Linked DNA regions of Homo sapiens. The protein of the gene in region 1 interacts with the protein of each later gene in a pairwise test. Each region holds a gene or a part of one and is shown in the gene's direction. Other genes may lie near its edges. The genes, in order: DERL1, ABHD4, TEX44, HM13, CIAO2A and KASH5.

Region 1 (3,404 bases):
GCCTTCAACATGACAAGTGCCATGGGAACAGCAGGAGAGGGAGGTGTTCTCGGAGGTCAGATAACTATGTGGAAGTGACTTTGTTCTCTTCTCTCCGTTTGTGTCCCCGTCTTTCTGCACCAGGTACCGCTGGCTGCCCAGTAGGAGAGGAGGAGTATCAGGATTTGGTGTGCCCCCTGCTAGCATGAGGCGAGCTGCTGATCAGAATGGCGGAGGCGGGAGACACAACTGGGGCCAGGGCTTTCGACTTGGAGACCAGTGAAGGGGCGGCCTCGGGCAGCCGCTCCTCTCAAGCCACATTTCCTCCCAGTGCTGGGTGCACTTAACAACTGCGTTCTGGCTAACACTGTTGGACCTGACCCACACTGAATGTAGTCTTTCAGTACGAGACAAAGTTTCTTAAATCCCGAAGAAAAATATAAGTGTTCCACAAGTTTCACGATTCTCATTCAAGTCCTTACTGCTGTGAAGAACAAATACCAACTGTGCAAATTGCAAAACTGACTACATTTTTTGGTGTCTTCTCTTCTCCCCTTTCCGTCTGAATAATGGGTTTTAGCGGGTCCTAGTCTGCTGGCATTGAGCTGGGGCTGGGTCACCAAACCCTTCCCAAAAGGACCCTTATCTCTTTCTTGCACACATGCCTCTCTCCCACTTTTCCCAACCCCCACATTTGCAACTAGAAGAGGTTGCCCATAAAATTGCTCTGCCCTTGACAGGTTCTGTTATTTATTGACTTTTGCCAAGGCTTGGTCACAACAATCATATTCACGTAATTTTCCCCCTTTGGTGGCAGAACTGTAGCAATAGGGGGAGAAGACAAGCAGCGGATGAAGCGTTTTCTCAGCTTTTGGAATTGCTTCGACCTGACATCCGTTGTAACCGTTTGCCACTTCTTCAGATATTTTTATAAAAAAGTACCACTGAGTCAGTGAGGGCCACAGATTGGTATTAATGAGATACGAGGGTTGTTGCTGGGTGTTTGTTTCCTGAGCTAAGTGATCAAGACTGTAGTGGAGTTGCAGCTAACATGGGTTAGGTTTAAACCATGGGGGATGCAACCCCTTTGCGTTTCATATGTAGGCCTACTGGCTTTGTGTAGCTGGAGTAGTTGGGTTGCTTTGTGTTAGGAGGATCCAGATCATGTTGGCTACAGGGAGATGCTCTCTTTGAGAGGCTCCTGGGCATTGATTCCATTTCAATCTCATTCTGGATATGTGTTCATTGAGTAAAGGAGGAGAGACCCTCATACGCTATTTAAATGTCACTTTTTTGCCTATCCCCCGTTTTTTGGTCATGTTTCAATTAATTGTGAGGAAGGCGCAGCTCCTCTCTGCACGTAGATCATTTTTTAAAGCTAATGTAAGCACATCTAAGGGAATAACATGATTTAAGGTTGAAATGGCTTTAGAATCATTTGGGTTTGAGGGTGTGTTATTTTGAGTCATGAATGTACAAGCTCTGTGAATCAGACCAGCTTAAATACCCACACCTTTTTTTCGTAGGTGGGCTTTTCCTATCAGAGCTTGGCTCATAACCAAATAAAGTTTTTTGAAGGCCATGGCTTTTCACACAGTTATTTTATTTTATGACGTTATCTGAAAGCAGACTGTTAGGAGCAGTATTGAGTGGCTGTCACACTTTGAGGCAACTAAAAAGGCTTCAAACGTTTTGATCAGTTTCTTTTCAGGAAACATTGTGCTCTAACAGTATGACTATTCTTTCCCCCACTCTTAAACAGTGTGATGTGTGTTATCCTAGGAAATGAGAGTTGGCAAACAACTTCTCATTTTGAATAGAGTTTGTGTGTACCTCTCCATATTTAATTTATATGATAAAATAGGTGGGGAGAGTCTGAACCTTAACTGTCATGTTTTGTTGTTCATCTGTGGCCACAATAAAGTTTACTTGTAAAATTTTAGAGGCCATTACTCCAATTATGTTGCACGTACACTCATTGTACAGGCGTGGAGACTCATTGTATGTATAAGAATATTCTGACAGTGAGTGACCCGGAGTCTCTGGTGTACCCTCTTACCAGTCAGCTGCCTGCGAGCAGTCATTTTTTCCTAAAGGTTTACAAGTATTTAGAACTCTTCAGTTCAGGGCAAAATGTTCATGAAGTTATTCCTCTTAAACATGGTTAGGAAGCTGATGACGTTATTGATTTTGTCTGGATTATGTTTCTGGAATAATTTTACCAAAACAAGCTATTTGAGTTTTGACTTGACAAGGCAAAACATGACAGTGGATTCTCTTTACAAATGGAAAAAAAAAATCCTTATTTTGTATAAAGGACTTCCCTTTTTGTAAACTAATCCTTTTTATTGGTAAAAATTGTAAATTAAAATGTGCAACTTGAAGGTTGTCTGTGTTAAGTTTCCATGTCCCTGCTCTGCTGTCTCTTAGATATCACATAATTTGTGTAACCAATTATCTCTTGAAGAGCATTTAGGAAGTACCCAGTATTTTTTGCTGGATTAATTCCTGGATGCAGAATTCCTGGGTTTTCATTTTAATGAAGGAGGATGCTTGCTAACTTTGAGTGAGGAGTCATATCTGATTGTAGCATGCTTTATGGCATTTTTATAGCTTCTACCCATGGATCTGAGCCCTGGAACTTTATAAAATTAGTTTAATCCTGTTTCCTCATAAGGCACACACAGACTAGATAGCAGGTGCCATGACATTCCTGAGCCCTTTTTTTTTTTTTTCCTCGAGGGTGAACATCCCAGTCTGTATCTTGGGCCTTCGACAGGCCAACTTCACTCATCACAAGGTGAGGTGACAGGAAGCAGGTTGTATGTATGTCCCTCTTCTATTACTGGGGAAATACTGAAGCAATAGAAAAAGATCCCGCTTATTTAGAAGGACACATTGCCAGTATCATTGTGTTCTAAGCTACCTTTTGAATGACATGGATCTAATAATAGGCAATGTTGCAGTTGCCAACATCTTCGTTTATTGCCAACTCTGTTTCTGAGGTCCCTGCCCCTCTTACACTTTCAGCAGTAACTTAACACTCTGAATAACTAACCTTTGAAAGAAGTTACTCCTTTCTGGACTTTATACTGTTTTTTTCTTAGAAGGCTGGGCTGAGCAAATGGGTTTACTGGCAGTTCACTTGTTTGCCTTCCAGAGTGACTGGTGATCAGAATTGGCCAGGAATACCATGTCCTGTGTTTACTTCTTTCTTAACCCTCCCTCCCACCTTCCCTCCCTGTCCCTCCCTCTTTCTCTCCCTCTCTCCCTCTCTGTCTCTTCTTTCTTTGTTTTTTTGAGACAGGATCTCAGTCTGTCACCCAGGTTGGAGTGTAGTGGCATGATCTCGGCTCGCTGCAACCTCTGCCTCCCAGGTTCAGATGATCCTCCCACCTCAGCCTCCTGAGTAGCTGGGACCACAA
Region 2 (4,772 bases), on another chromosome or scaffold:
CCCCATCTTTACAAAAACTAAAAAAAAAATTAGCTGGGCACATGTAGTCCTAGCTACTTAGAAGACTGAGGCAAGAGGACCCCTTGAGCCCAGGAGTTCAAGGCTGCAGTGAGCCATGATCATGACACTGCATTCCAGCTTAGGTGACAGTGAGAATCAGTCTCAAAAAAAAAAAGGTTGCATGAAAGAGACAAGTCCTCTGCTAGTTGAACTACTTTGTACCACATCTGGCAAATTCCTAAGCCCCTAAACTCTATAAATGCTGGTTCTCCTAAACGTTAAGTCTTTATAATGATCAGCTTAACACTGTGTTGCTACAAAGAAGAAATCTCAGAATCATCTGGGTCCTGCAGGAAGGCTAAAGAAAAATGCTTTGATAAACCCCTGTGCACCAGCATTCTCTCACCCATCCTCCACCACTCCCCAGTCTGGTTTTTTTTGTTTGTTTGCTTGTTTGTTTTTGGTTTTTGAGATGGAGTCTCACTCTGTCTCTCAGGCTGGAGTGCAGTGTCACAATTTTGGCTCACTGCAACCTCCGCCTCCTGGGTTCAAGCAATTCTCCCTGCCGCAGCCTCCCCAGTAGCTAGGATTACAGGTGCCTGCTACCACACCTGGCTAATTTTTTGTATTTTTAGTAAGAGATGGGGTTTCACCATGTTGGCCAGACTGGTCTCGAACTACTGACTGCAAGTGATCCACCCACTTTGGCCTCCCAAGGTGCAGGGATTACAGGCGTGAGCCACCGCGCCCCACCCCTAGTCTGGTTTTAACTAAGGGGATGATCTGAAATCTGACAGTTCCAGGGAGGTCAGGCCCTGTTTACCGGTACAAGCAAATTCAGCAGCCAGCCTCAAGATTTAGCTCCTCTGCTGAGCAAACTGAAGTGCACTCAGGACCTCTGGGCCAAGCCAGCCTTATCTCCCTGTCCCCGCATTTACATACCGAAAGGAGACCTAGCCTTATTGGTGAGTCCTTCAACTGTTATCCTCCAAACTGAGGGTGACCTGGAGTTGAGCTATATTTTCCCTGGAAAATAGGTTGGGGTCAGAGTCAACATCAGAGCAGAGATATGCCCATTTTGGCAGATGTCATATAGGTTTAGGTTTGCCAGAGAAAATACAGGATGCCTACTTATGTCCCAAATACTGCATGGCCCATACTTATTCTAAAAAAGTATTTGCTTTATTTAAATCTGGAATTTACATTTAACTAGGTGTCCTGTATTTTAGTTTCGAAATCTGGCATCCAGGCCCTTTGTAGGAGCATTCAACCAATGGCGTTGTCTCCACAAACATTTAAGCCTCTTACTAGAAGGAACATTAACAAGGGTCGATTTCAGGAGGACACAGTTACAATGGGAAGCCCAAAGAGTGGGTGCGAGCGTGCAGGCGTAGTTCTACCACTTTTTAGTTATGAGAGAAGGGAGGGCTGTCGGAGCTCCTGCAAGGACTCCCCCAAATGTGTGACCAGGATTACTGTCCCATTCTGAGACCGTCAGAGACATCTCTGCCGGGACACATGCCAGTGATTGAAAACACAGCAAGGGCCCCACTAGCTGAAACCAAGTTGCAGAGTTTTGAGGGTCCCACCGCCGACCGCCGGCCCGCCGCGAGCCCTGCCCCCTGCGCGGCCACGCCCCCTTGCTCCCCGCGGCCTCCCGGGTCAGCTGGTGCTGGCGTCAGGCGCTGGGCGGGCTCGCCAGGACCTGGCAAGGCTTGTTTACTATGGCCGATGATCTGGAGCAGCAGTGAGTTAATCCTGTCCCTTTCTCTCTTTCTCTCTCTCTCTCTGGGCCATGATCCTGGGACTGTCTGTGGCTGAGGAACAGTTGTAGACACCTTCCCGCTCTTCCTTTTCCAGGTCGGCCTCCGGGGAGGGCGGGGGGTGGGTGCGTTGCTTGCTTTGCATTTGCCCAGAAGAGGCAGCGGCTGAGCCTGGGGAGCCATGGGAGACGCGCTCGCCCGCAGCCCGGGGATCCTGGCTTTCTACCTTAGTCCTCGCGAGTGCCCCTCATTCTCCTCTGGCCTCTGGAGAGATTCCATGTTGATGTGTGAGATCCCCGAAAGCAAGCTTGTGGGACGCGGGTGCGGAGGTAGCAGCCAGGCGTGCTCGTCTCGACTTGCCCCCCAGAACGGCAGTCGTGGGGATGGAGAGAGCCTCCTCCCTCCGCCCGGCAAAGAGAAGATGTGGAGAGACTGGAGAGGTCTCCATCGCGCTGAAATTGGTGTGGAACAACGGGCTTGCAAGTTTCTTTAGCTGTCGCCCACCGAGACACGTAGCCGCATGTGATCCTAGTTGATAATGCTTTTAATAATCGTAACAACATCTTTAATGCAATGGTTTCAGATTTAGAGCTATTGGGATTTGCTACCACTCTTTCAAGGGCATCAGGTTTGGGATACCACCTGTAGGTGGTGTGACTAGCAGTTCGCAATCTGATAGGAGTAAGAAAAAGTTGCTACGAGAAGAATGACTCAGCTCCCAGCCGAGCCTTGGTTTCACCAGAACTGGGCCTTTCCTGGACCCAGTAATCCTGTTTTTCAGACCTGTAGAACTGGAAGTCCGGGGAACTAATTAACTTTATGACCATAATTAATAGCTTGCTGGGCTTGAAAGAAATGTCCAGGGGAATGTTTTACTTTCTAAGATGACTTTTCCAAGAGGAAATTTGCAATGCTTTAAAGGACTTAGGGAGGCAGAATATTAGAGCTGGAGGACATGCAGGTAGTTCAGCTCCTTTTTAAAAATGAAGAAGCTGGTGTCCATAGAAATTAGGAGACTTGCCCAAGATCACAGAGGTCTAGAACAGGATTCTCTCCCAGCACAGAACCCCTTGTGCTTCACCCCCATCAAGTTGACAGAGACCGTCCTAGCCAGGTTAAGTTCATGGCTGAATGTCTTTTCTGCTCCTTGCCTCAATTTCCCACTCCAGCCCTTACCTCCCGCATAGTTTTGAGCACATACAGTGTGCCAGGCACCATTTCCAGTGTTTACTTGTAACATTTTTGGTGAAGAAGGAAAGCAAAGTAATTCTCCCACCAAGGACTCTCTGCTGAGCAGTCTATGATGCTGTTCCTTGGGTAGCGTTTCTCCTGAACTCTGCTTTGTACAGTAACAGGACAATGTGGGATCCAGGTGTTATGATCTGACTTGTCACAGTCTGTGATTTAGAGAGAAAATTTGTCTCTTAAGGCTGACAAAATCCTGTGGTCTTGGTCCCCGTGCTTCAAGCCTACAAGGAATTCCAGTAGAATATTAAAAGGATTCTGAGTCTCCCTAGGATTAGATCGATTGATATTGACAACTCTCATCTGGCTAAAACCATTGATGTATCACTCCCAGCTGCAACCCCAGTTTTTCTTTCAAACTTCAAACATCCACTGAGAGTTGCTACTTGCAAAACACTGGGAATGTAGACAACTTATGATTTAGCTGGGGGGAAAGAAAGTTGATTGGGAGTTTGTGCTAGGCAATATTCTATGTGCTTTAGATGCATTAACACTTTTAATCTTTATAGCAACCCTATGAGGTAGATATTATTACCTCCCTTTTAAAGATGAGGAAGCTCTGACACAGAAAAGCTAAATAATGTGCCCACAGTCACATTGCTGGTAAGTGACAGTGCTAAAATTGGAACTCTGGCCTTCAGAGTTTAGATCACACCTCCCTTGAGAAAACAGACATAAATGTAAAAATGTGGTTATGTTCTGTGAATATTTGTACATGACCTTGAAAAGCTGAGGCTGGAAGGTTCAGGGAGAGAAACCTGGATTTGAGATAAGGGGCTCTAGTTCTGGTTCTTTTTTTCTAACTTGTATGACCTCTTTGGGCATCAGTTTGCTCATCTGTAAAATACAGAGGCTAGACTAGTTGATTCCTAAGGAAACATCCTAATTTAAAATTCTGTGCTTCAAATGATGTATCAGGATGCCCAGTGTGGGCCAAGGGGATTTGGTCATGGTTCCCCTCACTCCCCCTTAGAGTGCCCTACCTTGAATATGCCAGTGTTCACAGGCCCTTCCTATAGCTGTAGATATCTGTCCTGTAACTCAGGCAGAGTTCAAGAAAAGAGAAATATCATATGGGGTTAACAAGGAATAATACAAACTGTCATTCATTGAGCATCTCATTTGTACTGGGCATCTTACAAGTGTCCTTACATATACAGATGCTCAAAGACAGGTTATTTAATGGGCCAAAACCATTCTGCTCATCAATGATAACACTATGATTCACGTCCAGCAGGGGGGTGTGTGTGTGTGTGTGTGTGTGTGTGTGTGTGTGTGTGTGTGTGTAATTCCAAAGCTGGTGCTTTTAACCTCTACCTTGCAATGACTTAAGGTCCCTGGGTATGAAGGAGAAAACGGGATGAGTTATCTGTGTTACCGCATGTCATTAGAGGTGAGGACATAGGTGAGCTTTCTACTCATTTTACAATCTAGAAAACAAGACCAGAGGGAACCTGTGTCCTGTCAGTGAACCATAACAGAACTTGAATCCAGGTCTCTCACCTCCTCCTCCCTGCCTACCCCATCTCCATGGGTTGGACTGATTGATTACCTGAGAGATCAGTTGGGCACAACACAGTATTCCACACTTCTAGGGGCTTGGAAGAGGGCATACATAAACACCAACCAGTGCCCTGCCAGTAGGGCAGATGGCATGGGAATTTGTCCTACTGTTAAGGAACAGCTAGTACTGGGGACAGCAAAGGATAACTGAAACATTAGTTAAAAGATGCCTCTCCCTTTAATCTCCTTGAACATAAATTA
Region 3 (3,867 bases), on another chromosome or scaffold:
GAGTAAGTCGCTTATTCTCTGTGAGGCTCAGCATGCCTGTGTGTAAACTGAGTATACTAGTAGAACCGTACCTACCCAGAGGTGATGGGTGATGAGAAGGATGCTATGCGCCCTTTTCTGCCCATAAGCAGTCACTAAATGTTAGCTGATAACCCCTGGAGAAGCACAGACACGACCGACTGAGCCTTCCTCTCCAAACATCTTCTTAATGTAGGCATTTTTTTTTTTTTTTTTTGAGATAGAGTTTCGCCCTTGTTGCCCAGGCTGGAGTGCGATGGTGCGATCTCGGCTCACCACAACCTCCGCCTCCCGGGGTTCAAGCGATACTCCTGCCTCAGCCTCCCGAGCAGCTGGGATTACAGGCATGTGCCACCACGCCCAGCTAATTTTGTATTTTTAGTAGAGACGGGGTTTCTCCATGTTGGTCAGGCTGGTCTCAAACTCCTGACCTCAGATGATCTGCCCGCCTCAGCCTCCCAAAGTGCTGGGATCACAGGCATGAGCCACCGTGCCCAGCTAAGCACAAGTAGGTGTATCTGGGGTTATCCTTCTCCAAGAAACACTCAGAGGTCTGCAGACCTTTTGTTATTCTCTGCCCTTCTAGTCCAGATGAGCAAGGAGAAGATAGAGATTTTTGCCCTACATCAAAAGGGTTAAACCCACAGCCACAAATGGAGCTGCCCAGGCCCTTGGCTTTTGCTTATACCTACTCACCACTGCTGGGAAACTGATTCCCTGCAGGAACACTGACTAAATTGGGGGTGGTTATTTGTTGTTGTTTGTTGTTGTTGTTGTTTTGTTTGTTTATTTGTTTTGAAACGGAGTACGCTTTTGCCCAGGCTGGAGTGCAATGGTGCGATCTCGGCTCACTGCAACCTCCACTCCCTGGGTTCGAGCAATTCTTCTGCCTCAGCTTCCCCAGTAGCTGGGATTACAGGTGCACGCCAATACGCCCGGCTACTTTTTGCATTTTTAGTAGAGACAGGGTTTCACCATGTTGGCCAGGCTGGTCTCGAACTCCTGACCTCAGGTGATCCCCCCACCTCAGCCTCCCAGAGTGCTGGGATTACAGGAGTGAGCCACCATGCCCAGCCTAAATTGGGGTCTTGAGGCACCAGTGTAGACAGAGAGGTGCCAGGAGGGGTCCCTTATAAACACTGTTCTAAATCAACATCTGCATCCCTTCTCATTTGTCAGAGTCACAGCTGTCACTCCTCCTGTGTCCCTGTGGTTGTACTTGCCCCTGTGCACACGCCTCCAGCCCTTTCAAGAACATTTGTCATTTTTTCCCTATGTACCTGCAAAGTTGGCAACAAACTGTCCCATAGACTTAGCCCACTTGGAAGGCTGCTCCAGAAGCTCAAGACCCTTGCTCTATGGGTACCTGTGACATCACCAGTGGCCACAGTCCCTTGTGACCTCACCACTTGGACAACTCAGCCCAGCTGGGTTGCAGCCACTCCCTCCAACCGCCACAAGCAGCAAAGGGCATAGATGACCACAGGAGAGCCCTAGGGGGAGGCCGGCTCCACCAGCAGCCCCATACATGGCACTCCCAGGGTACCCCCTGGGCAACGTGGATGACAGCAGGTCTAAGGACAGCCCAGCAGGAGAGCCCCAAGGTCAGGTCCCACTCACAGCAGATGTCTTGGCAGTGAGCAGCTCTGTCGCATCCACTGACTGGCAGGATATAGATCAGGCCTCCTTCAAGACGGCCACCCCCAGGGCCATATCAACATCTGGAGACAAAGACAAGAGTGCAGTTGTTCCAGAACACGGCCAGAAGACACCCAGAAAAATCACACCTCTGCTTCCCAGCCAAAATCCAAGTCCCCTGCAAGTGTCTATGAGCCTTCAGAATCCAGCGTGGGACAGGCAGGTTCAAGACGCAAGGACAAGTCAGAGTCTAGTGGTTTTCCCAAGTCACCTCCTGGGTAAAGACAAGATGTCACAAATGGCGAGTGTTCCTGAGAGAGAGCCGGAGTCAGCCCCCTCTGCCCCGAGTGCTGAGCTACAGTCCACCCAGCACATGGAGGCTCAGCCCGTCGAGAGTGATGCTGACCATGTCACAGCAGGTGCCAATGGCCAGCATGGCCCTCAGGCTGCCAGCACCACCAAGTCTGCTGAGGAGAAAGCTGAGCATCCAAAGGCCCCACACCCTGAAGCTGAAGCTTTACCATCTGATGAGTCCCCAGTGGCAATGGGGGCAAATGTGGTGGACAGCTTAGGAGACCTGCAGACTTGGTTCTTCCCTCCACCTCCAGCAGGCAGTGTGTCCCCGTCGCCTGGCCCCCACGAGGTGGCCCTGGGGAGAAGGCCCCTGGACTCCAGCCTGTACACGGCCAGTGAGGAGAACAGCTACATGCGCTCCATGACCAGCCTGCTGGACAGGGGCGAGGGCTCCATCAGCTCCCTGGCAGACATCCTGGTGTGGTCCGAGACCACCATGGGCATGGCCATAGCCACAGGCTTCCTGGATTCCGGCCACAGCACTGTGGCAGACCTGCTGCACAGCTCGGGGCCCAGCTTGCGCTCGGTCCCCAGCCTGGTGGGAAGCGTCAGCTCGGCCTTCTCCTCTGGGCTGGTGTCAGGGACCAGCTCAGCCCTGCGCACCATCACCCGTGTGCTGGAGACAGTGGAGCAGAGGACCGTGGAGGGCATCCGCTCAGCCATGCGCTACCTGACCAGCCACCTCACCCCACGCCAGGCCCAGGCTGACCCCAACTATGATTAGAGCCCTGCACAGGGACCCCCGAAGGGCTGGTTCAGTGGCCTCCAGAGATCCCTGGGACCCTCACGCCCTGCTCCCTTGCCCATTCTTGCTCTGGACGGTTCCCCCAGCCCATGCAATAAATCACCAGTGAGCATTTATTTCTAAGCACCAGCCTCCTCCCTTGGGGTGCAGTGAGCAACACGGTGACAGGACAGGAGGGCTCGGGGTGCGGTGGAAACAGCGTCCCCTGAGGGTTTCTCAGGCTGTCCCATTCAGGGGCTGGGGGCAAACGTGCAGAGAAGAACCTGGACAGAGCTGGAGGCAGTGTGGCGGGGGGTGTCTCAGACCTGCAAAAACCCATCCCTACTGAACCTCCACCCAGGTAAGCTCCTGAGGAGCCTTCCCAGGGGCCTAGGCTGGCCTGGCGGGCTCAAGCTGAGAGGCAGAAGAGGCAGTGCAGTTGACAGTACTGAGTCACACCATGTGGGTTCAAACCCCAGCGCCAGCACTTGCCCTGGGCGAATCACGTCACTCTCAGCCTACTCAGCTGTAGAAAGGAGAGAATAAATCCATACCATGACACTGTTATAAGACAGAAGGGAAGCGATGCAGGCCATAATGCATGGTGTCTGGCACTTGATAAGCCCACACATGGTGGCTGCCATTATCATTATCCTCCGGTGAGCTGGGGGTGCAGAGGGAGCAGGAGTCTAAGCAAACCGACTGTCCTGGTTTGCCTCAGACTAAGGGGGTTTCTGGGTTGTAGGACTTTCATATTTAAAACCGGAAAACCCCAGGCAAACTAGGATGAGTTGCTCACCTTAGACCCAGGTCTCTTTACGTGGTATTTACTCTTGTCTGTGAAGATATGCATCTGGGAAAGCATTAGCAAGGCCCGGCCTTGAGTGCAGCGACGGGGCAGCCATCTGCTTCGGAAGCTGTCAGCCCACCCTCTGGCTAGACCCTGTGGAGCACCCGGTGGTATGACCTGGTGAGTGATGCCCCTGCTGGATGTCCGCTCCAGCCCCACCCTTAGCCAAGTGCCCTCAGCAGCTCTCACCTGCATGCCTTCATGTGCGGCCCTGGCCACAGATGGTTCACTAGTCCTTCCTGGTTCCCAGCAGAGTCTCCAAATGGGAGCCCTGGGGCCGCAG
Region 4 (4,087 bases), on another chromosome or scaffold:
GGATTACAGGTGTGAGCCACTGTGCCTGGCTTCTCCAGAGGTTTTTAAGCAGATACGTGATACAATCAGGTGTAGGCTTTAGAAAGAGCTCATGGCAGGGTGGGTGATAGGCAGGAGGGAGAAGTGTAATGTTGGTGCAGGGGTTGTGAAGACAGCAATGCAGCAATGAGGGCCAAAGGATTGGGGTGGGAAGTTAGGAAAGGTAACCTTGGAGAGCTGAGTGACTGGATGTTGTGGTAAAGAATGGAGACTCTGGAGTCTCCAGCTGGGTCAACAGTAACAGAATGGCCCATGAATTTCAGATCATTTCCAGGGCATGGCGTAGAAGCAGTGCTCCGAGAGCTTGAACCGTGCCAATGGCTTGAAGCAGGCATCTGTCCTCTCTTACAGCTTTTGTTTCCGCTCTGATAACAACATCCAGAATGTCACTGGAAGCTACATTTACTTCTGCTGTTTGTGTCAGGTTTTTCCCCCACTTTCTAATTGTGTTTTATGTTGCAGGATCTATTGTATTTACATACACAAATCTGGTTAAAAAATCGCAATTGGATTGGTAAAGAATCCTAGCAACTTTTTAGTATTTTTGTAACTACAAAGATTAGCTGTTCAGTTACCTTCAGGATTCTGTTCCTCAGAAAGGTTGCAGGCTTCCCAAGTATCTTCCTGTTAAAACTTTCCAACCGAAATTTCCAGATAGGAAAGATAGAAATCTTCTAGGAAACAGCTCCCAAGAGTTTGGGGTCTGGAACTGGACTGCCTCAGTTTCAGTCCTGGCTCTGCCACTCACCAGCTGTGTGACACTAAGCAAGTTACTTCACCTCTCTAGACCTCCGCTTCCTCATCTGTAAAAGAGCTATTAAAAGTACCTGCTGGCCAGGCGTGATGGCTCACGCCTGTAATCCCAGCACTTCGGGAGGCCAAGGCAGGCAGATCACAAGGTCAGGATCTTGTGACAGACCATCCTGACTAACATGGTGAAACCCTGTCTCTACTAAAAATACAAAAAATTAGCTGGGCGTGGTGGTACATGCCTGTAGTCCCAGCTACTCGGGAGGCTGAGACATGAGAATTGCTTGAACCCAAGAGGCGGAGGTTGCAGTGAGCCAAGATTGCACCACTGCATTCCAGCCTGGGCAACAGAGCGAGACTCCATCTCAAAAAAAAAAAAAAAAAGTACCTGCTTTGTGGGGTTTTTGTGAGGATGAAAACATGTAAAGTACCTAGAACAGTGCAGTAATGTTATTGTTATTACTATTATCGTCAGATTTCAGGTCTCCCATTCTTTTTTTTTTTTTTTTTTTAATGGAGGCAGAGTATCTCCATGTTGCCCATGCTGGTCTCAAACTCCTGGGCTCAACCGATCTGCCCACCTTGACCTCCCAAAGTGCTGGGATTACAGTCCAGTCTCCCATTCTGACTCAGCATTGCAGCATGGGATATTTATAAGTCACCCGCAAAGGAGACCAGAGTCCTCTGTGTAATGGAGAGGATCTGTCCAACCTTGGTTTGTCACTGAATAAGATTAGGCCTCTTCCCACCCAGGGTGCTGAGCTGAATTGAAAGGAATATGTGGAAATGAGCCATAATGCTGGTTTGTAGGTGAAGCCACAGAGTCCTGCGTGTCCTTTGACAGCCCTGAGCCTCTGCATGTGCATATCTTTCTGCCTGATAAGCACTTCCTTTCCTTGTACACAAAGCACACTCCTCAAGCCGGGCATGGTGGCTCACACCTGTAATCCCAGCACTTTGGGAGGCCAAGGCAGGCAGATCATCTGAGGTCAGGAGTTTGAGACCAGCCTGGCCAACATGGTGAAACCCCATCTCTACTAAAAATACAAAATTAGCTGGGTGTGGTGGCAGGTGCCTATAATCCCAGCTACTCAGGAGGCCGAGGCAGAGAATCACTTGATTTGTAGTGAGCTGAGATTGTGCCATTGCACTCCAGCCTGTGCAAAAAGAGCAAAACTCCACTAAAAAAAAACAAAAAAAAAAAACTGACAAGCTGACTCCTAAACCCAGTCAGCATTTGTCTGGCTCCAGACTACCAGACACTGTGCTTGACCATCAAGGCCTTGCTTAAGTGGTACCTGCTCTTGCCACCTCTGACTCCCTTACTTCTCTGCAGAAATAGTGTCTTGTTGGCTGTGTCGTGATTCCGTTTTGCATAATAATGATACAAATGGTGTATACGGTTTAAATGATGACTCGAGATACAATGCTGAGTACTTCCAAAGCAGAAATCAGAATCCTCACAACTTGTTTTACAGCTGAGGAAATTGAGGCTTAGAGAAAAAAAAAATCACTTTCCCAAGGTCCCACAGCTGGGAAGTAGAGCTGGGAGTCCAAATGGACTTCCTGATCTCAGAGTCCCTTCATAACTGCTGATGTTCATACTGTGTGTCACAGTGATATACATGTCTATTGCATCATGTGTCACACTACATTATAATAGCCTGTTTGGGGTTTTTTTTGGGAGGGGGGCTTTTTTTTTTTTATGAGACAGAGTCTCGCTCTGTTGCCGAGGCTGGAGTTCAGTGGCACGATCCCCACTCACTACGGCCTCCACCTCCCGGGTTCAAGCAATTCTCCTGCCTCAACCTCCTGAGTAGCTGGGACCATAGGCGCACAATATCACACCCGGCTAATTTTTGTATTTTTAGTAGAGACGGGGTTTCACCATGTTGGCCAGGCTGGTCTTTTTTTTTTTTTGAGACAGAGTCTCGCTGTCCACCCAGGCTGGAGTTCAGTGGCTCAGTCTCGGCTCACTGCAACCTCCACCTCCCAGGTTCAAGCTATTCTCCTCCCTCAGCCTCCCAAGTAGCTGGGATTACAGATGCACACCAGCACGCCCAGCTAATTTTTGTATTTTTAGTAGAGACAAGGTTTCACCATGTTGGCCAGGCTGATCTCGAAATCCTGACCTCAGGTGATCCGCCCGCCTCCATCTCCCAAAGTGCTGGGATTACAGGCATGAGCCACCACGCCCAGCCAGTTTTGCTGTGCATTCCATAAAATAGAATACGTGTTCCCTGTAATATGTATCATGTCACAGTATTAACCTACCTGCCTGTGAGTGTTTCAAGATCAGGAACTCATTTTTGTACCCATACTACTGCTACACAGGAAATGTATTGAATGTGTGGAGATGCTCAGAGGGGATGAGGAACTTGCCCAAGTCCCACAGCACACTGCTGGCAAAAGCAGAAGCCAAGGGTTGGGAGAGAATAGGGAAGGAAGGAAACTGGGCCTCTCATGTGGGTATTGTTCACCCACCCCACTCCCACCTCCTAGCAAAGCTGTCCAAGTGACTCACATGGAGCTGCCTCCAGTGGCTCCAGAGGGGAGGGTCTCCCTTCCAGCCCAGAGCCTGGGCTGCCTCAGCCATGCATAGGCAAGGGTGTGGTTAGGGGCCTCCTCACTCACCTCTCCCTGATAGTCACAACCCCCAATACAGGCACAGTACTTTAGTTTGCCAGGCTGTTTCGCATCCCATATCTTATTTGCTTTAAGACTCCTATGGGGCTGGGTGTGGTGGTTCACGCCTATAATCTCAGCATTTTGGGAGGCCAAGGCAGGAGGATCACTTGATGCCAGGAGTTCAAGGCTGCAGTGAGCTATGATCCTGCCACTGCACTCCAGCTTGGGCAACAGAGAGAGACCCTGTCACTTTTCTTTAAAAAAAAAAGAAGGCTCTTGGACCTTTTTTGAAGTGAGGCTAGAGATTGTCCTCCTGTTTGACAGAGAAGTAAACCCAGTCACTCAGCAAGCCGTTAACAGAGCAAGGAATACCTTGGATACACTTTATGTGTAGCATTTTACTTATTTATGAACTATATCTGTAGGGAGAATTCCCACAGATGGAATTGCTTGGTCAAAGGGTATGTGCATTTGTAATTTTTTGTGTATTGCCTAGTTGCTTTCTACAGGAAGACAGATTGACTCCCATAGGCAGTGTGGGAGACTACATCTTTCCCCGTAGCCCCACCGACTCAGTATGTTACCCAGTGTGTGGATTCTTACCTTTCCGATAGACAAAAAACAGAATCTCAGTGTGCTTTAGTTTGAGCTCTTATTAAGAGTGAGAATA
Region 5 (2,974 bases), on another chromosome or scaffold:
CGGGTTCAAGGGATTCTCCTGCCTCAGCCTCCTGAGTAGCTGGTAATACACGCCCGGCTAATTTTTTGTATTTTTAGTAGAGTTGGGGTTTTACTGTGTTAGCCAGGATGGTCTCGATCTCCTGACCTCGTGATCCGCCTGCCTCGGCCTCCCAAATTGCTGGGATTACAGGCATGAGCCACCACGCCCGGCTTGTTTTGTTTTTTAAAAAAAATTGGGGCCAGGTGCAGTGGCTCACGCCTATAATCTCTGTACTTTGGGAGGCCTAGATGGGCGGATCACTTAACCTCAGGAATTCAAGACCAGCTTGGGCAATATGGCGATACGCGGTCTCTACAAAAAAATAGAGACGAGGGAGGAGAGGGGTGGGAGTGTGGGAGCTGAGGTGGGAGGATCACCTGAGCCCAGGAAGTCGAGGCTGTAGTGAGACATGATCGCGCCACTGCACTCCAGCCTAGGCGACAGAGTAAGACCTGTCTCAAAAAAAAAAAAAAAAAAAAGATTGGACTAGATGACCTTTAAGGTCCCTTTTAACTATAATAAGTTATGATTTTTCTCACTCATGAGAAATGTTTATCTCCGTAGTAAATAAGTAAATAAAAATTAGTTCATATGTTCCAGTGTTCTCTGGAAAGTAGACGTCTTTATTACAGCATACTCTCTTTACCACAGGATTTGCAATAATTTTGTAGGTTGTCTTAAAAGCTCTGGGTCTTGGAGGGTAGCTCATGTCTATAGGTGCAGCAGGGCCAGGAGGGATAGCTTAACCAGTATTATACTTGAGAATAAATTTAGCATGATAATAATGAATGAGAAAAGAAGGATGCTGAAAACTATATTGTGATCCCATTTTTGTAAAACAAGCAATGTGAAGAAACTTCCAACCCTGATATGTGGGTGTGTGTGTGTGTAAAATCTGTGTAAGATTATGTGGGTAAAGAGAAGAATATGGAAGAAACCACACTAGATTGTTATTGTAGATTTCCTGAGTCAGTAGCAGGGCAGGAGGAAGTTTAGATACCGAGTTGGGAAGAAGTAGAGTGCAGAAAAGAGATATTCTTAAGTAAAACCACACATATGAGATCTCATTTGTGTAAAATGATATTTTTGTGTATTCATAAAAAAATTAATGGAAATACCACCTGCAGGCCTTTTCCAGGTGAACAAAATAAAAAATCCTACTCATTTCAGTCCTTTTTTTTTTTAGAGAAGGATGTGGGGGATTTGTCCCTATGTCTCTGATGTTAGAAACAGGATTTGGGGGGCGCTGGGCGCAGTGGCTCACGCCTGTAATCCCAACACTTTGGGAAGCCGAGGCGGATCACCTGAGGTCAGGAGTTTGAGACCAGTCTGGCCAACATGGCGAAACCCCATCTCTACTAAAAAAAAAAAATAATAATACAAAACTTAGCTGGGTGTGGTGGCGTCTGCCTGTAATTCCAGCTATTGGGAGGCTGAGGTAGGAGAATTGCTTGAACCCAGGAGGCGGAGGTTGCAGTGAGCCGAGATCATGCCACTGCACTCCAGCCTGGGCAACAGGGTGAGACTCCATCTCAAAAAAAAAAAAAAAGAAACAGGATTTGGGCACTCATCCCTAGATGTTTGAATTTACTGTACATTCCACTTCACTCTCTTATCTTAGAATGCATTAATGTTTTTTCTTTTACTTTTTTTCCCACTTTCCAGTTGGAAATCTACATTTCTGAAGGAACCCACTCAACAGAAGAAGACAGTAAGTGAATGTTGAAACATAATTGAAAAACAACTTCAGATAGTATTTTATCTTGGATACTGGATTCTTCTGCCAGCCAAGAATCTACTGGGTTACTTTCAAAAAAGTGCACAATTGGTTATTGGCTCTTCCTTCCTAGGTGAGGAAACCTAGGCATTTCAAAGAAGTAATTTTTGCAGTGGACTCCGAGTGCACTAGAGCCCACGGATGTTGACTGGTTTAGGCCAGTGGCTACACATCTGTAAAGAATATCCAGTGCTGGGGACCTTGACTTATGAGCTCTAAGTAGGCTTCTTTTCTTTGGTGACAGGATAGAGAGCTGTGTACTTGAAATTGAAGGTCTAGCAAGTAGAGCTTTAGTGAATCTTGGGGTAGGTGCTGTCTCTCTGGGTTAGTATATTAGAATGGGAGTGGGGAACCTTTTTTATATAGAGGACCTCTGGCCTACAGAGAGAAATCAATCAGTAGCTACTTAAAAATAGCAGAAGTGGGGTTTGGGAAAAGCAAAAAACAAAATGTTCTGTATGATCCCTGTGTTACATTAAAAACATAATTTTAATGTTTTTAATCTACAAATGATAGAGTGCAAATAATGAGAAATACATTTAAAAGGCATGTTGTACTTAAGTTTCATCACTAAGTAAATTGAGAAGGTGGGAAAAAATAGCAGAGGAATGGAAGAAAGAGCTAATAGAGGAAGAGCAACAGTGAGATAGATACCAAGAAGACTCAGAAAGGCATACACAGGGCTGGAGAGAGACACACAAAATCTCCTACATAAAAGAGAGCTATAGAGAGGGAAGCCTGCTGCTTCCAGAGGAACAGCCTATCCAGGAAACTTTTTAGGTACTGTCATGAAAACTGTTAAAAACCATGCCCTATTTATAGTTCTAGACATGTAGATTATTATACTCTTTGTGGGCTGAATTTCTTTAAACCCCACGAGCTGAGGGCTTCTACCTGTAATTTAGAAAAATAAGAGTTTAGGTACCCTAAATCCACTCAGGTTATCGTTTTGAAATTCCTTGAATGATAGGATTTTACAGCAGCAATAGTATTAAGTCTTATGAGTCTTGTTTTTCATTTAGTAAGTATTTATTAAGTGCCTTCTATGTGTGGGTACAGTTCAGCCTTTGAGATACATTCCTGCCTTTGTGGAGCCTACATTGTAGTAGGAAGAAACCAAATTGAAAGTATTTTCGCAGGAATATGTGTATGTTTGTGTGTCTTCTACATGAGACA
Region 6 (4,087 bases), on another chromosome or scaffold:
CCCCGCTACAGAGCCCAGGAGGCTGAGGACCTGGGGTCACCCCTCTTCCTTCCTTATTCTTCCCACTGGTGAGCTGAGCCCTCTTGTCTCCCCAGTGTACCTCCGGGAGCGGCCTGAGGAGGCAAGGCTGGGAATGCCGGTCAGCTTGGAGGAGCAAATACTCAACTCCACGTTCGAAGCTTGTGACCCTCAGAGGACAGGTGGTGGGGGCATGAGGGGTGCTGGGGACCAGTGCGGGCAGGATGGGGTGGAGGCTGGGAACTGGGGAGCCTCAGAGAGAAGACTGGGCTAAGGCCCCCTCTTGGGGGTATTGTAAGAACAAAGTGGGTGATTATGGGAAGCTTCAGGAAGAAGAACGTGGATAATGGGGTGAAGGCCTTTTAGAATGAGGAAAACTTGGGGGACGTTGATGGAAGAGGGCAGAGTTTTGGGGTCGTGGGATAGGGGAGGGAGGCAGCCACCATGGTGGCGTGGGGCATGGCTGATGCTGTCCCTATGTCCATCCCCTTTGGTTTACCCTGTGATGGGGGGATGACTGGGCCCCATTTCCAGGTGAAAAAGTGGACTCAGAGGAGGGGAAAGGGCTTGCCCAGTGTGTCTCCACTGGGCCATGGAGCAGGAGTGCCACCAGCCTAGCCAGTGACATCCTGGTCCCAAGCTGCTGCCAGTCCATACCCATCACTCCCCACCTGCCCCAGACCCCCTCACTGCATGCTCTGTCACAGGCACTGTGGCTGTGGCCCAGGTGCTGGCCTACCTGGAGGCTGTGACAGGCCAGGGCCCCCAGGATGCACGCCTCCAAACATTGGCCAACAGCCTGGACCCCAATGGGGAGGGCCCTAAGGCCACTGTGGACTTGGACACTTTCCTGGTTGTCATGCGTGACTGGATTGCTGCCTGTCAACTACATGGGTGAGTCCCCACATCTTCATCCTCCTCTGGGAAGTCCTTCCTAAGATCTAACCTCATACCTGCTTACTGGAGCCAGCATCCTTTAGGCCCAAGGACCTACTGTGTTTGGAATGAGGCTGTGGAGAGAAAAATGAAGAGACGGGATTCAGAGGGGGTAGATAGGGAGTCTGAGGACAAAATAATTTGGATGAGGAAGCAGAGGGGGTCTGGGAGACAGAAATAAAATGGGGCTGGAGAAGGGAGGAGTTTGGGGCTGACAGAGGTCCCTCCCCAACCCTTCACCAAACCCACTCCTTGCCCCTCCTGCTTTTCCATCTGGCCACGGGCACTTGCCATCTGGCCTCACCCTCCTACCCTGTGGTGCCAGCTCTCACCTGACCCGGTCCCCTCCTCCCACCTGCAATCCCCCTGCCTGTGGCTGGTGAGGACTGAGGGGCAGCTACAGTGGGGCGCTAAGCCTCATCCCTTTGATACAGGGGATTAGAGCTGGAAGAGGAGACCGCCTTCCAGGGAGCCCTGACCTCCCGGCAACTGCCATCTGGTGAGATTGCTATATATAGAATGAAGCAGGCAGGCCCTGGGTCAGACAGTGTGGGGACTTACCACCCAGGGCAGAGCAAGGGATAGGGTAGGAACCAGGGACCTTTACTGTAGACTAGAGCTGTGAGTGTGGCTTTCTAGGTCCTCCGTCCCTTCCTTCCGTGAGCTTTGGGTTTCTTTTCTTCAGAGGGTGGTTTCCAACTCGTTCTCCTCACACCAGCCCTATTAGAGAGGCCTACGAGGCCCCGCCTACCTCTGCTCCATCATTAACATCACCTCTCCTCACTCTAGTCCAGGAATTCACAGGCCCACTGGTCTTGCTGCCCTTCCTCGAATGTGCCCCACTTCTGCCCAGCACAGGTCCTTGCTCAGGCTGTTCCCCTCCACTCCTTGCTCCCCACCCTGCTGGACTTTTTTTTTTTTTTTTTTTTTTTTTTTGAGATAAGAGTTTCACTCCTGTTGCCCAGGCTGTTGTGCAATGGCGCAATCTCAGCTCACCGCCACCCCCGCCTCCTGGGTTCAAGCAGTTCTTCTGCCTCAGCCTTCCGCATAGCTGGGATTACAGGCATGCACCACCACGCCCAGCTAATTTTGTATTTTTCATAGAGACGAGGTTTCTCCATGTTGGTCAGGCTGGTCTCGAACTCCCGACCTCAGGTGATCCAACTGCCTTGGCCTCCCAAAGTGCTGGGATTACAGGCGTGAGCCACTGCGCCAAGCCGTCATCCACTCCTCTGGCAAAGGGGAAGCCCTGGTATGCCCCTGGCTAGAGTTCCTTGCTCCCCATGCTCACTCCTAGACTTGTAGGCCTTTCCATTGGAACATCCACCTGCAGAGGAAATCTGATTATCTAGTTAGCCACTGGCACCTGGGTTTAGTTGGCTGGTTTGCTCACCATTGTATCCCCAGGACCTCACACATAGGAGGTGCTCCATAAAAAAAGTGGTCATGATTACAGGCGTGAGCCTGTAATCCCAGCATTTTAGAAGGCCAAAGTGGAAAGAACATTTGAGCCCAGTAGTTTGAGACCAGCCTGGGCAACATAGTGAGACACCATCTCTACTAAAAATAAAAAATTAGCTGAGTGCGGTGGCATGTACCTGTGGTCCTAGCCGGGACACTGAGTCAGGAGGATCGCTTGAGCCTGAAAGGTCAAAGCTGCAGTGAGCCATGCATTGCACCACTGCACTCCAGCCTGGGCAATAGAGCAGGATCCTGTCTTTTAAAAAAAAAAAAAAAAAATGGTGGTCATGTTCCATTTCTCTAGCCATACAAAAAACGGTGGGGAAGGAAGTTCTCTTCAACCTCCTTCATCAGGCTTGGGGGCCCAGGGAGGGCTGCAAGCAGAGGAGGGACTAGAGGCCAGAAGGCCAGAGAAGAGGCTCTGGTGAGGATCCAAGAGGAGAAAGCAAGGGCCGGGGCATGGAGACAGAGAGGAGGGGTGGAGCAGAGAGTCAGGGGCAGGAGGGAGAAGTCTGGGCTCTGCTGGACTGGGGGTGACAGGGAGCAAGGGAGCCAGGTCCGCCCAGTGGCTGAGTGGTCGGTGGGGGATCTGGGAAGGGGAAGGTGAAGTGCTGCCCAGTGTTGGGTGTAAAGAATGTGGGGAGTTAGGGTTATCTGGGAGATCCAGCCTGAGCTCAAGGTAGAAGACAAGCAAGAGGGCTTTACAGTGGGTATAACTGCAGCCCCAAAAGCCCATGAGATTCTCCAGAGCACAGGTGAGGGTGGAGGCAGATGGAGTCCAACCTCAGAGCCCTGGGGCACTTTACGTTTAAGGGTTCCAGGGAAGCCAACATTCTCTTGGCTCTCTCCCTCCAGGATGCCCAGAAGCTGAGGAGCCAGCCAACCTGGAGAGCTTCGGAGGCGAAGACCCCAGACCCGAGCTGTACCTATCCTCACACCCCTCCCTGACCCTCCTGCCCACACCCTGTCCCCTCCAGCCTGCCGAGGCCCGGGTAGGGCTTGGGATCCTTCAGGGAAATGAATGAGGGACGGGGCTTTGCTGAAAGTTCAGGGAGAGCAGAGGAGTCTCTCTCCTGTTTATCTTTCCCCAAAAGAGCCACATCTCCCCACCACCAGCACCTACCTCGACCCGGGGAAATGAGTCAGGGGCTGTGGACAGTGACCTGAACCCCTTCCTTGCCCCTAGACAAGCCACAGCTGACCTGCTGAGCAGCCTGGAGGACCTGGAGCTCAGCAACCGACGTCTGGTTGGGGAGAATGCCAAATTGCAGCGGAGCATGGAGACAGCTGAGGAGGGGTCAGCACGCCTTGGGGAGGAGATCTTGGCTCTGCGTAAGCAGCTTCACAGGTGGGCTGGATGCCACACCCACCCTCCCCAGCGCCCCTGCCTCCGTCCTCCCTGCAGCAGCCGGCCTCTATCTCCCATGCTCGTGTCTGCATCCTGCTCTTTGACTCTGTACCTGTCCTTTCTTTTCCCTTTTCTGTTTTTATCTTTTGTGTCTCTCTGATTCTTATCTCTCAGCCTCTGTTTTGGTCTTTTTATCTTTCCCTTGAGGGTTCAGACTTCTCTCTCTCTCTTTTTTTTTTTTTTGAGACAGGTTCTCACTCTGTCACCCAGGCTGGAGTGCAGTGGGGGTGATCACAGCTCACTGTACCCTCCGCCTCTGGGCTC

The links.
Region 2: the proteins of DERL1 (region 1) and ABHD4 interact in binary tests that used the Homo sapiens proteins (3 or more experiments, as listed by UniProt).
Region 3: the proteins of DERL1 (region 1) and TEX44 interact in binary tests that used the Homo sapiens proteins (3 or more experiments, as listed by UniProt).
Region 4: the proteins of DERL1 (region 1) and HM13 interact in binary tests that used the Homo sapiens proteins (3 or more experiments, as listed by UniProt).
Region 5: the proteins of DERL1 (region 1) and CIAO2A interact in binary tests that used the Homo sapiens proteins (3 or more experiments, as listed by UniProt).
Region 6: the proteins of DERL1 (region 1) and KASH5 interact in binary tests that used the Homo sapiens proteins (3 or more experiments, as listed by UniProt).

The regions. Positions count from the first base shown.
Region 1 is NC_000008.11:123,012,305-123,015,708, reverse strand, and holds the end of DERL1 (derlin-1), read left to right. Parts: intron 1-123; coding exon 124-262; 3' UTR 263-2,539; downstream 2,540-3,404. UniProt on the Homo sapiens protein: Functional component of endoplasmic reticulum-associated degradation (ERAD) for misfolded lumenal proteins. Forms homotetramers which encircle a large channel traversing the endoplasmic reticulum (ER) membrane.
Region 2 is NC_000014.9:22,596,583-22,601,354, forward strand, and holds the start of ABHD4 ((Lyso)-N-acylphosphatidylethanolamine lipase), read left to right. Parts: upstream 1-1,717; 5' UTR 1,718-1,724; coding exon 1,725-1,747; exon of another isoform or gene 1,748-1,860; intron 1,861-4,772. UniProt on the Homo sapiens protein: Lysophospholipase selective for N-acyl phosphatidylethanolamine (NAPE).
Region 3 is NC_000002.12:231,591,406-231,595,272, forward strand, and holds TEX44 (testis-expressed protein 44), read left to right. Parts: upstream 1-1,458; 5' UTR 1,459-1,546; coding exon 1,547-2,734; 3' UTR 2,735-2,871; downstream 2,872-3,867.
Region 4 is NC_000020.11:31,520,573-31,524,659, forward strand, and holds part of HM13 (signal peptide peptidase), read left to right. Parts: intron 1-4,087. UniProt on the Homo sapiens protein: Catalyzes intramembrane proteolysis of signal peptides that have been removed from precursors of secretory and membrane proteins, resulting in the release of the fragment from the ER membrane into the cytoplasm.
Region 5 is NC_000015.10:64,074,250-64,077,223, reverse strand, and holds part of CIAO2A (cytosolic iron-sulfur assembly component 2A), read left to right. Parts: intron 1-1,686; coding exon 1,687-1,732; exon of another isoform or gene 1,733-2,974. UniProt on the Homo sapiens protein: Component of the cytosolic iron-sulfur protein assembly (CIA) complex, a multiprotein complex that mediates the incorporation of iron-sulfur cluster into extramitochondrial Fe/S proteins.
Region 6 is NC_000019.10:49,394,381-49,398,467, forward strand, and holds part of KASH5 (protein KASH5), read left to right. Parts: intron 1-95; coding exon 96-200; intron 201-725; coding exon 726-912; intron 913-1,388; coding exon 1,389-1,453; intron 1,454-3,270; coding exon 3,271-3,337; intron 3,338-3,601; coding exon 3,602-3,763; intron 3,764-4,087. UniProt on the Homo sapiens protein: As a component of the LINC (LInker of Nucleoskeleton and Cytoskeleton) complex, involved in the connection between the nuclear lamina and the cytoskeleton.